Regions from separate parts of the Homo sapiens genome. Here region 2 is linked to region 1. Evidence: fine-mapped expression QTL. A gene starts in region 1. The other region holds a variant in brackets. All regions are shown on one strand. Distances are from middle to middle. Region 1 holds the start of COPS6 (COP9 signalosome subunit 6). Region 2 overlaps ZKSCAN1 (zinc finger with KRAB and SCAN domains 1).

The links. PIP is the estimated chance that this variant, and not a neighbour inherited with it, causes the effect.
Region 2: its variant is the best candidate, but not a certain one, in a credible set for the expression of COPS6 in whole blood (INTERVAL, PIP 0.60).

Annotation. Positions count from the first base shown.
Region 1 is chr7:100,085,900-100,090,899 of GRCh38, forward strand. It overlaps COPS6 (COP9 signalosome subunit 6), which reads left to right and starts at 3,070. Exons shown (of 10, transcript NM_006833.5): 1 at 3,070-3,167; 2 at 3,391-3,516; 3 at 3,716-3,847; 4 at 4,500-4,588; 5 at 4,693-4,755. The coding sequence starts at 3,092. RefSeq lists enhancers at 1,190-1,883, 3,270-3,961, 3,468-4,667 and a silencer at 2,930-3,119.
Region 2 is chr7:100,033,824-100,039,345 of GRCh38, forward strand. ZKSCAN1 (zinc finger with KRAB and SCAN domains 1) reads left to right here. Exons shown (of 6, transcript NM_003439.4): 6 at 1-5,522. The coding sequence ends at 374. Among named protein-coding and RNA genes, the nearest start is that of ZSCAN21, 13 kb to the right of the region's middle. RefSeq lists enhancers at 3,507-4,008, 4,009-4,508. The variant G/C (reference allele first, on the strand shown) is at 2,293.

The DNA.
Region 1 (5,000 bases):
CTTAGGTTTAGGGGTAAGGAGGGGGTGGAGCAGCCTAGGCTAGCCAGATGTGAATTTTGGGTTTTTTTATGAGACAGAGTCTTGCTTTGTCAACCAGGCTGGAGTGTGGTGGTGTGATCTCGGCTCGCTGCAACCTCCGCCTCCCGGGTTCAAGTGATTCTCCTCCCTCAGCCTCTCGAGTAGCTGGGATTACAGGCATGCACCACCACGCCTGGCTAATTTTTGTATTTTTAGTAGAGATGGGGTTTCACCATCTCTACTGGTCGAGACCAGGCTGGTCTTGAACTCCTGACTTCAGGTGATTCACCCACCTCGGCCTCCCAAAGTGCTGAGATTACAAGCATAAGCCACTGTGCCTGGCCAGGAACTCAGTATTTAAGGGAAGAAAGCATGCAAGAGGAAAATAAGGAAGAAGGAGAGGCAGTGAGGCAAATGTTTTTTGTTTTGTTTTGTTTTGTTTTTCTTAAGACAGTGTCTCGCTCTGTCAGCAGGCTGGAGTGCAGTGGCGCAATCTCGGCTCACTGCAACCGCTGCCTCCCAGGTTCAAGCGATTCTTGTGCCTCAGCCTCCCAAGTAGCTGGTACTACAGGTGCGTGTCACCATGCCCAGCTAATATTTTGTATTTTTAGTAGAGACGGGGTTTCACAGTGTTAGCCAGGATAGTCTCAATCTCTTGACCTTGTGATCTGCCTGCCTCGGCCTCCCAAAGTGCTGGGATTACAGGCGTGAGCCACTGCACCCAGTCCAGCAAATGGTTATTTTATTTTATTTTTTGAAATAGAGTCTCAATCTGTTGCCCAGGCTGGAGTCCAGTGGGTCCATCTCGGCTCACTGCAATCTCCACCTCCTAGGCTCAAGTGATTCTCCTGCCTCAGCCTCCCAAGTAGCTGAGATTACAGGTGGGCACCACCACACCCAGCTAATTTTTGTATTTTTAGTAAAGATGGGGTTTTGCCATGTTGGCCAGGCTGGTCTTGAACTCCTGGCCTCAAGTGATCCACTCGCTTCCCAAAGTGCTGCGATTACAGGCATGAGCCACTGCACACCCTGCTGCACATTGTTACTTTTTTGTGAGTTTCTCATTAGTGTTCAGTAAATCTACATTTTATGTAAGATACAATAAACATTTGAAAAGAGGGAGTGGAGGAAAAAGTCAGTTATGCATCTGTCTCAGGATAGGTGGAGGGATGATTCCTGGTCTCTTCCTTGTTCTATAATTGGGAAGATAAGCTTGTAATCAACATTGTCAGTATGAGATTTCACAGAACTCGGATTAGGGCTGGTTTATAGGGGGAATGTTTATGCTGAAAGATTCAGAGGCTAATGAGGAATTTCCTGGCAAGCAATTTGTGAGGAAGACCATCTGGGGAGGTATATGCCTTTTGCCATTGTAGGAGCCTGGCTTATGTATGAGGCTATGACACAGGGTTGTGGAATTACAGCTATCTGGGAACAAAAAGGAAGGGAGTTTTGACTCACTTCCCAAGCATAAATTTCCTCGGCATGCCTCTACCATACCCAGCGAATTTTGTTTCCATGTTTTGTTGAAACAAGGTGTCACCATGTTGCCAAGGCTGGTCTCAAACTCCTGGGTTCAAGTGATCCTCCAACCTTGGCCTCCCAAAGTGCTAGGATTACAGGCGTGAGTCACCATGCCTGGCCTTGTGGAGTTATCTTCTTTCTTTCTTTCTTTCTTTCTTTTTTTTTTTTTTTTGAGATGGAGTCTCACTTTGTCTTGCCCGGGCTGGAGTGCAGTGGCGCGATCGCAGCTCACTGCAGCTTCCACCTCCCGGGTTCAAGCAATTCTCCTGCCTCAGGCTCCTGAGTAGCTGGGATTACAGGCGCCTGCCACCACGCCTGGCTAATTTTTGTATTTTTAGTAGAGATGGGGTTTCACCATGTTGGCTAGGCTCGTCTCAAACTGCTGACCTCAAGTGATTGTCTGGCCTCGGTCTCCCAAAATGCTGGTATTACAGGTGTGAGCCACCATGCCTGGCCTTGTGGGGTTATTTTCGAAAGTCCTTGAGATAATTCCTATCTCAGACATGCAAGCATGAGACCTTCTCCTTGGTGTTCTCATGGCTCCAATTTGTTTGGACCTGACAATGTGATTTTGTCCTGGTATCTGCAACTTTCACAAGATGGAGCAACTAACTCAACACCAGATTCCACCCCTAATTATTCCTTCATTCACTCAAAAAGTATCTAGGCTCCAATGTGTCAGGCACCGTGTTGGTCACAGGGGATACCATGATGAACAAGAGAAGGAACCACAGGCTTTTGAATGGGAAACTAAAGCATGTGAAAAACACACGGAGAGCTGGGTGCGGTGGCTCATGCCTGTAATCCCAGTGCTTTGGGAGGCTGAGGATGGAGGATCTCTTCTGCCCGGGAGTTGGAGACCAGCCTGGACAACCTAGTGAGACCCCCGTCTCTATCAAAATAAAAACAAATAATAAAATTAGCTGGGTGCGGTGGGGTGCGCCTGTAGTCCCAGCTACTCGGGAGGCTGAACTGGGAGGATCACTTGAGCCCAGGAGTTTGAGGGTGCAGTGAGCTGACATCAGGCCACTGCACTCCAGCCTGGGCGACAGAGCGAGACCCTGTCTCAAACAAAACAAAACAAACCACCACCACCACCAGACATGAGGGCCAGTGCAGCTGAAGCCTGAAGATCAAGGGCTAGAAGAGGCCAGGCCGGGGCCAGATCAGGCAGGGCCTTGCAGGTTGTGGTTAGTTGTTTGGATTTTATTGTGAGGGAAATAACACGACATGTCATTCCTTCTGCAACAGCCTTAAGAACTAGGCGTTCTTATCCCAATTTCACAGACGAGGACGATCAAGTCGTTAATTTGTCAAAGGTCACCCGCAGGCGACAGGCGGGGACAGGGTCTGGGAAAACCCGCTAGGCACCGAGGCCCAGAGGGCGTCGGGCGTCCCCGCACCGAGTGCCGCCCGCCGCGACCCGGGAACTGCCTGCTCCCCGGACGCCAGGCCCGCCGCACGCCGCGGGGACACCGAACATGCGCCGCTCGCCTTACGGAAGCCGGGAAGGAAGGGGGCGGGGCCGAGGCTGGCGGGCGCGGGGAAAATGGCGGCGGCGGCGGCGGCGGCTGCAGCTACGAACGGGACCGGAGGAAGCAGCGGGATGGAGGTGGATGCAGCAGGTAACGGGCCGTGCGGGGGTGGCTTCCGGAGACCTCCTTCAGGGGTTCGTTGAGGCCTCCCTGTGCTCCCGGGAGAAGGGAGGAGGGCGGAGCAGCAACATCTTTCCCTGGGATAAGTTACGGGAGGAAAGTGTGGCCCGGGCTCCGCCGTCCCCCACTGCCATCTCCAGGGAAGAACGTGGGGCCCGGACTCTCACCCTCTCTCCTTTCCCTCCACCCTTAGTAGTCCCCAGCGTGATGGCCTGCGGAGTGACTGGGAGTGTTTCCGTCGCTCTCCATCCCCTTGTCATTCTCAACATCTCAGACCACTGGATCCGCATGCGCTCCCAGGAGGGGCGGCCTGTGCAGGGTGAGTGTTGGGCATAGACTCCAGTCTCTTCTCCTTGCTCACCTCCCCCAGGCAGTGGTCTTTTCCCCTTCCTCTACTGGAGCCAATTCCCCCTCCCCCAAATCATCGTTTCCCCAATACATGGTTCCCACTGATCTCAGACCCTCAGGTCATAGAAGTTTCTTTACCCTCACCTTTTCCATGTCATTCTCTTTCCCAGTGATTGGGGCTCTGATTGGCAAGCAGGAGGGCCGAAATATCGAGGTGATGAACTCCTTTGAGCTGCTGTCCCACACCGTGGAAGAGAAGATTATCATTGACAAGGAATATTATTACACCAAGGAGGAGCAGTGTGAGAGTGGAATAGATGTGGGGAAGAGGAGTGGGAGTTAAAAAAAAAATGTACAGGGTGGGGAAGATGGAGAGGGTTGGAAAGAAACAGGAGAGGAGACCAAGAACAGGGGAGAAAAAGTGAAGAGTAGCTGGAGAGATCTCAGAAAAAGAAAACGTTCAGAGTTCTTTCTCAAAAGAAAGCAAAGGATGAGAGGAGACAGGATAGAAGGGAGTAGTTATTCTAAACTGAGCCAGGATTTGAGGAGGGAGGAGAGAAGCTGGTGAAAATACACCAGGAGCTTCACATTGAGGAAGGATGGTTTAAAGAATTACTATGTCAGGCCGGGCTCAGTGACTCATGCCTCTAATCCCAGCACTTTGGGAGGCCGAGGTGGGTGGATCATGAGGTCAGGAGTTCAAGACCAGCCTGGCAAACATAGTGAAACCCCACCTCTACTAAAAATACAAAAATTAGTCTGGCATGGTGGTGCGTGCCTGTAGTCCCAGCTACGCGGGATGCTGAGGCAGGAGAATTGCTTGAACCTGGGAGGCGGAGGTTGTGGTGAGCTGAGATCATGCCACTGCACTCCAGCCTGGGCAACAGAGCGAGATTCCGTCTCAGAAAAAAAAAAAAAAAGAATTACTATATGTTCTGGCCCCTTCCCCTCTAGTTAAACAGGTGTTCAAGGAGCTGGAGTTTCTGGGTTGGTATACCACAGGGGGGCCACCTGACCCCTCGGACATCCACGTCCATAAGCAGGTATGCATGCTCACACCTGTGCATGCTGGGGCAGAGAATGGAGAATGAGGGGAAGGAGAAAGGTAGGGGGCACTGACTTCCTGTGCATTGTCCCTCTCTTCCAGGTGTGTGAGATCATCGAGAGCCCCCTCTTTCTGAAGTTGAACCCTATGACCAAGCACACAGATGTGAGTAATACTCCATGCCTACTCTGTCATGATTGTCGCTATACCTTTTACTGTGTGACACTCCTCTATTGGGGAATGCCAGATGCCACTTACCAGCTGTGACTCTGGCTTAGTCATTTAATCTCCAAACTGTGAAAGGAGGTAATCCCTACTTCATTGGTTTCTTGGGAAGATGAGAGGAAATGTGTAAAAGCAGCTAGCCCAAATGTTGGCATATAGTGTTCAGGTTTCTCCGTCTCCTTCAC
Region 2 (5,522 bases), 52 kb before region 1:
AGGCCTTCAGCCACAGTTCCAATCTCATCCTCCATCAGCGCATCCACTCTGGAGAGAAACCTTATGAATGTAATGAGTGCGGGAAGGCCTTCAGCCAGAGCTCGGACCTCACCAAGCATCAGAGAATTCACACGGGGGAGAAACCCTATGAATGTAGTGAATGTGGAAAAGCTTTCAACCGAAACTCATACCTGATTTTGCATCGGAGAATTCACACTCGAGAAAAGCCCTACAAGTGCACTAAGTGTGGCAAGGCCTTCACCCGCAGCTCCACCCTCACTCTGCATCACAGAATCCATGCCAGAGAGAGAGCCTCTGAGTACAGCCCAGCCTCCCTTGATGCATTTGGCGCGTTCCTGAAAAGTTGTGTGTAAAGGAAGAATTTGCCATCAAGCCATTTCCCCCTTTTGTTTCTAAAATTATTTCAGAGATGTGTGCTCCTGGAGGGAAAAAGAAATACAGCCTCAACAGATTAAAAAACAAAAGTCACACTTAAGGATCCTTCTAGTCACATCAGCAGTGTTCTGCCTTTATGTAGTAGTTGGGCATATAATCCTTCCACACAGCCCCTGCAGGGAAAGGCTAATCTTACGGATAATCCACGTGAGATTTCCACACAAGAGAAAAGCACACGCATAGTGAAATGTCAGTCTTTTCAGTAATGAGGATACCTTTAAGGCACTCTTGGACTCTCGGCAACCACAACATAATAGTTGAAAGATCAAGATTGGCTCCACGAAAGTGATACGGAGGTTAGGATGCTACTTGCTGCAAACAAGCCCTACTTTGGCCAACATCCTGCTTATTTCTCAAAAAAGAGGGACAGTGAAAACAAAAACGACATTGGGACATGCTGCTCAAGGTAGTTATATATACGATAAGTTGTATATATGATCACTGGTAGCCTACCAAAGCTGTAGAAATCTAGGACTGTGCTAATCAGTATCAAACCAAAGATTTCTATCTCTTCCCGAAAGAGAGGGTATGTGCACCAGTCTACAGTTCCAAAGGACTGCAACAAATGTAGATGGTTCTGTCCTCATCCCTGAGATCAGTTCTACTGAAATGGCAACAACAACTCCAAATACATCTCTCCCTTCTTGAAATCCCTAAAGCACTATCGCACTCCTAAATGCATTTCTCCACAAGTTAGCACTTGATTGTATACTGTCTTTTAATCCTTCATTGTTTCATGTATGAAGTTTTTAATCACCCCCTAACCCCCAAAAAAGATTCGGTTGTCAAGGGATATATTTCTATCCCTGCCAGCACAGTGCTGGACATAGTGAGTACTGAACACCTAAGAGGCACTCATTCAGACTGACTTCTACAGGACTTCTACGTGTGTGATAAAAGCCTGTGAATCGTGAGTCCCTGAAATATGGTAGCCTGGCCCAGCTTCTAAAGAGGACCTTCGTAGCCACAAGGCATGCTAAACCTCTAGGGTCTGATGCTGTTTTTGTTCCAAATATAAACGAAAGGCACTAGTCAGCCGCCTGCATAGACTTTCTAAACAGTGAGTAAATACCATGGAATGTCAGAAATGACTTTATCATCGTCATCTTGAAGAAAAATATGAACACTGATGAAGGTCATTTTTTTTTTTTGACATCTTTCTGTGGCAAAGCTCTTAGAATTCTTTGCAGTTAGCTGCTGAACAGTATGATGATTTGGGGATTTTCTGAATCATTTGTACTTAGATACTGGAGTTCAGAAGATGTGATTTTTGTTGCTTTTCAGAAAAAGGAACGTGGTAGGGAGTGTTTTTTCCCACGCTTTTCCAGTAACTTTGCAAAAGCATTAATTGTTCACTGGCAATTACTAAATGTATTTTGTTGCTCTGAGAAACTCAGCAGTGTACTGAGATGTGGCTGGCTGTGCCATCGTCATAGTGCACAGTGACTTTTCTGTTTCTTATCACTAAAGACTGAGGTGAGGTTATGAAACTTTCATTGGTCCCATCGTTGTGCGCAGGGTGCAACTGGCTACCTAGAAGCTGATGGCAGGAGACTGTTTCACACACAGGAGATTGTGAGCTGTGTAAGTAGTCATCGCCACTCAAGTAGGACAAGGGTCCTACCCAAGGCTAGGACCGCCCTGCGGAAACAGAAACATAGACTGAGAACAAACCTCAAGACTATCAGTGTGACCTCCCCATAACAAGAGAACCCCATATATAGTTTGAGACTTTCCCTTGAGAAACTTATACTAAAACTATTACTCATCAGTCATTCACTGATCAGCAGCTAAAGTCCATGAGACCAAATGGTTTTATATGGAACCAACGAAGTG[G/C]GAGCTAAAACTGCACAGTGGTCATTCTTTGGCCTCTCCTTGGCTTTATGACTTAAACCAACTACAACTTCCCTATAGCTTCTAAGCAGTTTCATCAGCATTACTTGGGAAAACGTGTTGCAAGTCAACCAGTCACTAGGATATTTCTACCCATGCAACGGAAGAAAAACCCATTACTCCAGAAGAGTATATCTAAGTAACTAAAATGGAGGCAGAAAATGTTTTAAGGATTTTCTTCAAAGAATAAGCCACAGCAATGGTTTTGTAGAAAACTCCTGTGCTTTTGAGCAAGGACTTTTGCCCTCTAGAAAGCAACTGAGGCCAGGTGCGGTGGCTCACGCCTGTAATCCCAGCACTTTGGGAGGCCGAGGTGAGCGGATCACCTGAGGTCAGGAGTTTTGAGACCAGCCTGGCCAACATGGTAAAATCCCGTCTCTACTAAAATTATAAAAATTAGCCGGGCATGATGGTGGGCACCTGTAATCCCAGCTACTTGGGAGGCTGAGGCAGGAGAATCACTTGAACCCAGGAGGCAGAGGTTGCAGTGAGCCAAGATTGCACACTGCACTCCAGCCTGGGTGACTAGCAAAACTCCATCTCAAAAAAAAAAAAAAGAAAGAAAGAAACTGAAAAGTGAGGTGTGGAACTCCAGGCAACGACCCAAGCACTTATTTTTTAAGAGGGAAAGGACTTTGGTCATGTTTACATTGGCCTTTGGTTTTTTTTTTTCTTTCAGCCACAACTATATGCTGATATAACTCAGCCATCACTTTTGAGTTTTGTTTTTAAATGAAGGTTAAATGTGACCTGTGCCCTCACATTTAATTCCGTTTCATGGAGACATCTTCCTGACTTTGTTGGATAGCTGCCACTAGGGTTGCTTCGATCTTCAGCCACATGCTGTCCTTGAAGCAGCTATTTGAAGATGTGTTTTCTGAGGAAAACAGGCTACAACTGTTTATTAAAACCACTTGCAGTGCATTCGTTTATCAGATGCTCAGTGCAAAGTGTAATTGGGTCATGGTCAAAAACGCTTGCAACATCTAATTGGCGTTCAAGATAGTCATTCAAAAGTTCTTGGCCCGCTGAAGTCTGTTAACAGTTGAAACATTCTACAGTTAACCATTAGCATGCTAGTTGTCCTAATGGAAATTTTTGAAGAGTTTTTCAATATATACCCTACCCTTGCCAGGAAGAGAAGTAAAATCCTCAGGTTGTGGGGTATTTGTTTCTACTCCAGCCTGGCAGGCAAGGCTAAAACCTGAGATTATCGATCTATGAGACATCTTGATATGTAAAGCACTTAATATTAAAGGCATAAAAGTGAAACTGCTAAATATGTATAGAGAGGTTGACGTGTGATACGTGGGACAGTTCACATAGACATCAGAGAATTTATTCCAGAAAGGAGCCTCCTGAATGTGATGAATACGGCAAAGCCTTTAATCACATCTCAGCCCTTAGCATCGGAAAGCTTATACTGTAAATAAACTTGATGAATATTATATGTGAGGAAAACTTTCATGTATAGCACTCATTGCTTCAGACAGAAAATGAATTCCGTCGGTATGTTCCAATCGTGATGAATTTGAGAAACATTGCAAGAGGGAGCTCAATCTTGGCCGGGCGCCGTGGCTCACGCCTGTAATCGCAGCACTTTGGGAGGCCGAGGCAGGCGGATCACGAGGTCAGTAGTTCGAGACCAGCCTGGCCAACATGGTGAAACCTTGTCTCTACTAAAAATACAAAAAAAAATTAGCTGGGCACAGTGGCGCACGCCTGTAGTCCCAGCTACTCGGGAGGCTGAGGCAGGAGAATGGCTTGAACCTGCGAGGCGGAGGTTGCAGTGAGCTAAGATCATGCCACTGGCACTCCAGCCTTGAGTGACAGAGCGAGGCTCTGTATCAAAAAAAAAAGTTGCGGGGGGGTGCTCAATCTTAACTGCAGAGGATCTACAGATGAAAAAAAATGTGGGGAAATGCTTTAAAAAAATAGCAAAATGTGCAACTTCTTACAAAAATTGTTAACGTTAGGTACTTCTATATATTTTATATGACCATAATGTCCGTGTGTGTTTTGTACCTTCAGTCCCTTGTTATTGTTCCGTATATTACCTGTAAGCAGATACTGTATTTTATTTTAGCCTATTTGACAGAACACATCACTCAGAAAAAGTGAAGTTTCAGAGCAAACAGTGAAGAAATCAGTGTGATTGTAGACAAAAAGTCGGTTCACAGAACGGAGCAGCGGGGAGAGGAAGGGAAAAGCTTCATAGTTTGGTGCTTATCACATCAAGAGATTGGTAAATTTCTGAGGAAAGACAGGCTAATGGGGCACTGAAATGGAACAACTCCTTTAAACGTGCAGCCTTTTGAATTTTTCCTCAAAACCAAGAAGTTGACCTCTGAGCTGTCAGGTGACCACTGTGTGCAAAGGGGATGGATTCTCTTGTCAGTAGACGGTCTTCTCCATGAAGCGAGAGTAGGAAGTGTACTGGAATGGCCAAGTGGGACTGCTTCAGCTGACCAGGTTCTTTTAAACCGTAGTCATGCTTTCCCACTAACTCTTAAATCCTTATGCTTAGAAAATTGAGGATAAGGCTGGGCACAGTGGCTCAGGCCTGTAATCCCAGCACTTTGGGAGACCAAGGCGGGTGGATCACAAGGTCAGGAGATCGAGACCATCCTGGCTAACATGGCGAAACCCCGTCTCTACTAAAAATACAAAAAAATAGCTGGGCGTGGTGGCGGGCGCCTGTAGTCCCAGCTACTCAGGAGGCTGAGGCAGGAGGATCACTTGAACATGGGAGGCGGAGGTTGCAGTGAGCCAAGATGGCGCCACTGCACTCCAGCCTGGGTGATGGCGTGAGACTCCATGTCAAAAAAAAAAAAAAGGTTGGGGGGAGGATAGGACTGGCCAGGCACGGTGGCTCACTCCTGTAATCTCAGCACTTTGGGAGGCAGAGGTGGGCGGATCACTTGAGGTCAGGAGTTTGAGACCAGCCTGGCCAACGTGGTGAAAGCCTGTCTCTACTAAAAATACAAAAATTAGCCGGGCGTGGTGGTGGGCGCCTGTAGTCCCAGCTACTCAGGAGGCTGAGGCAGGAGAATCACCTAAATCTGGGAGGCAGAGGTTGCAGTGAGCCGAGATTGCACCACTGCACTCCAGCCTGGGTAACAGAGACTCTGTCTCAAAAAAAGAAAAAAAAAAAAGAAAGAAAGAAAGAAAAT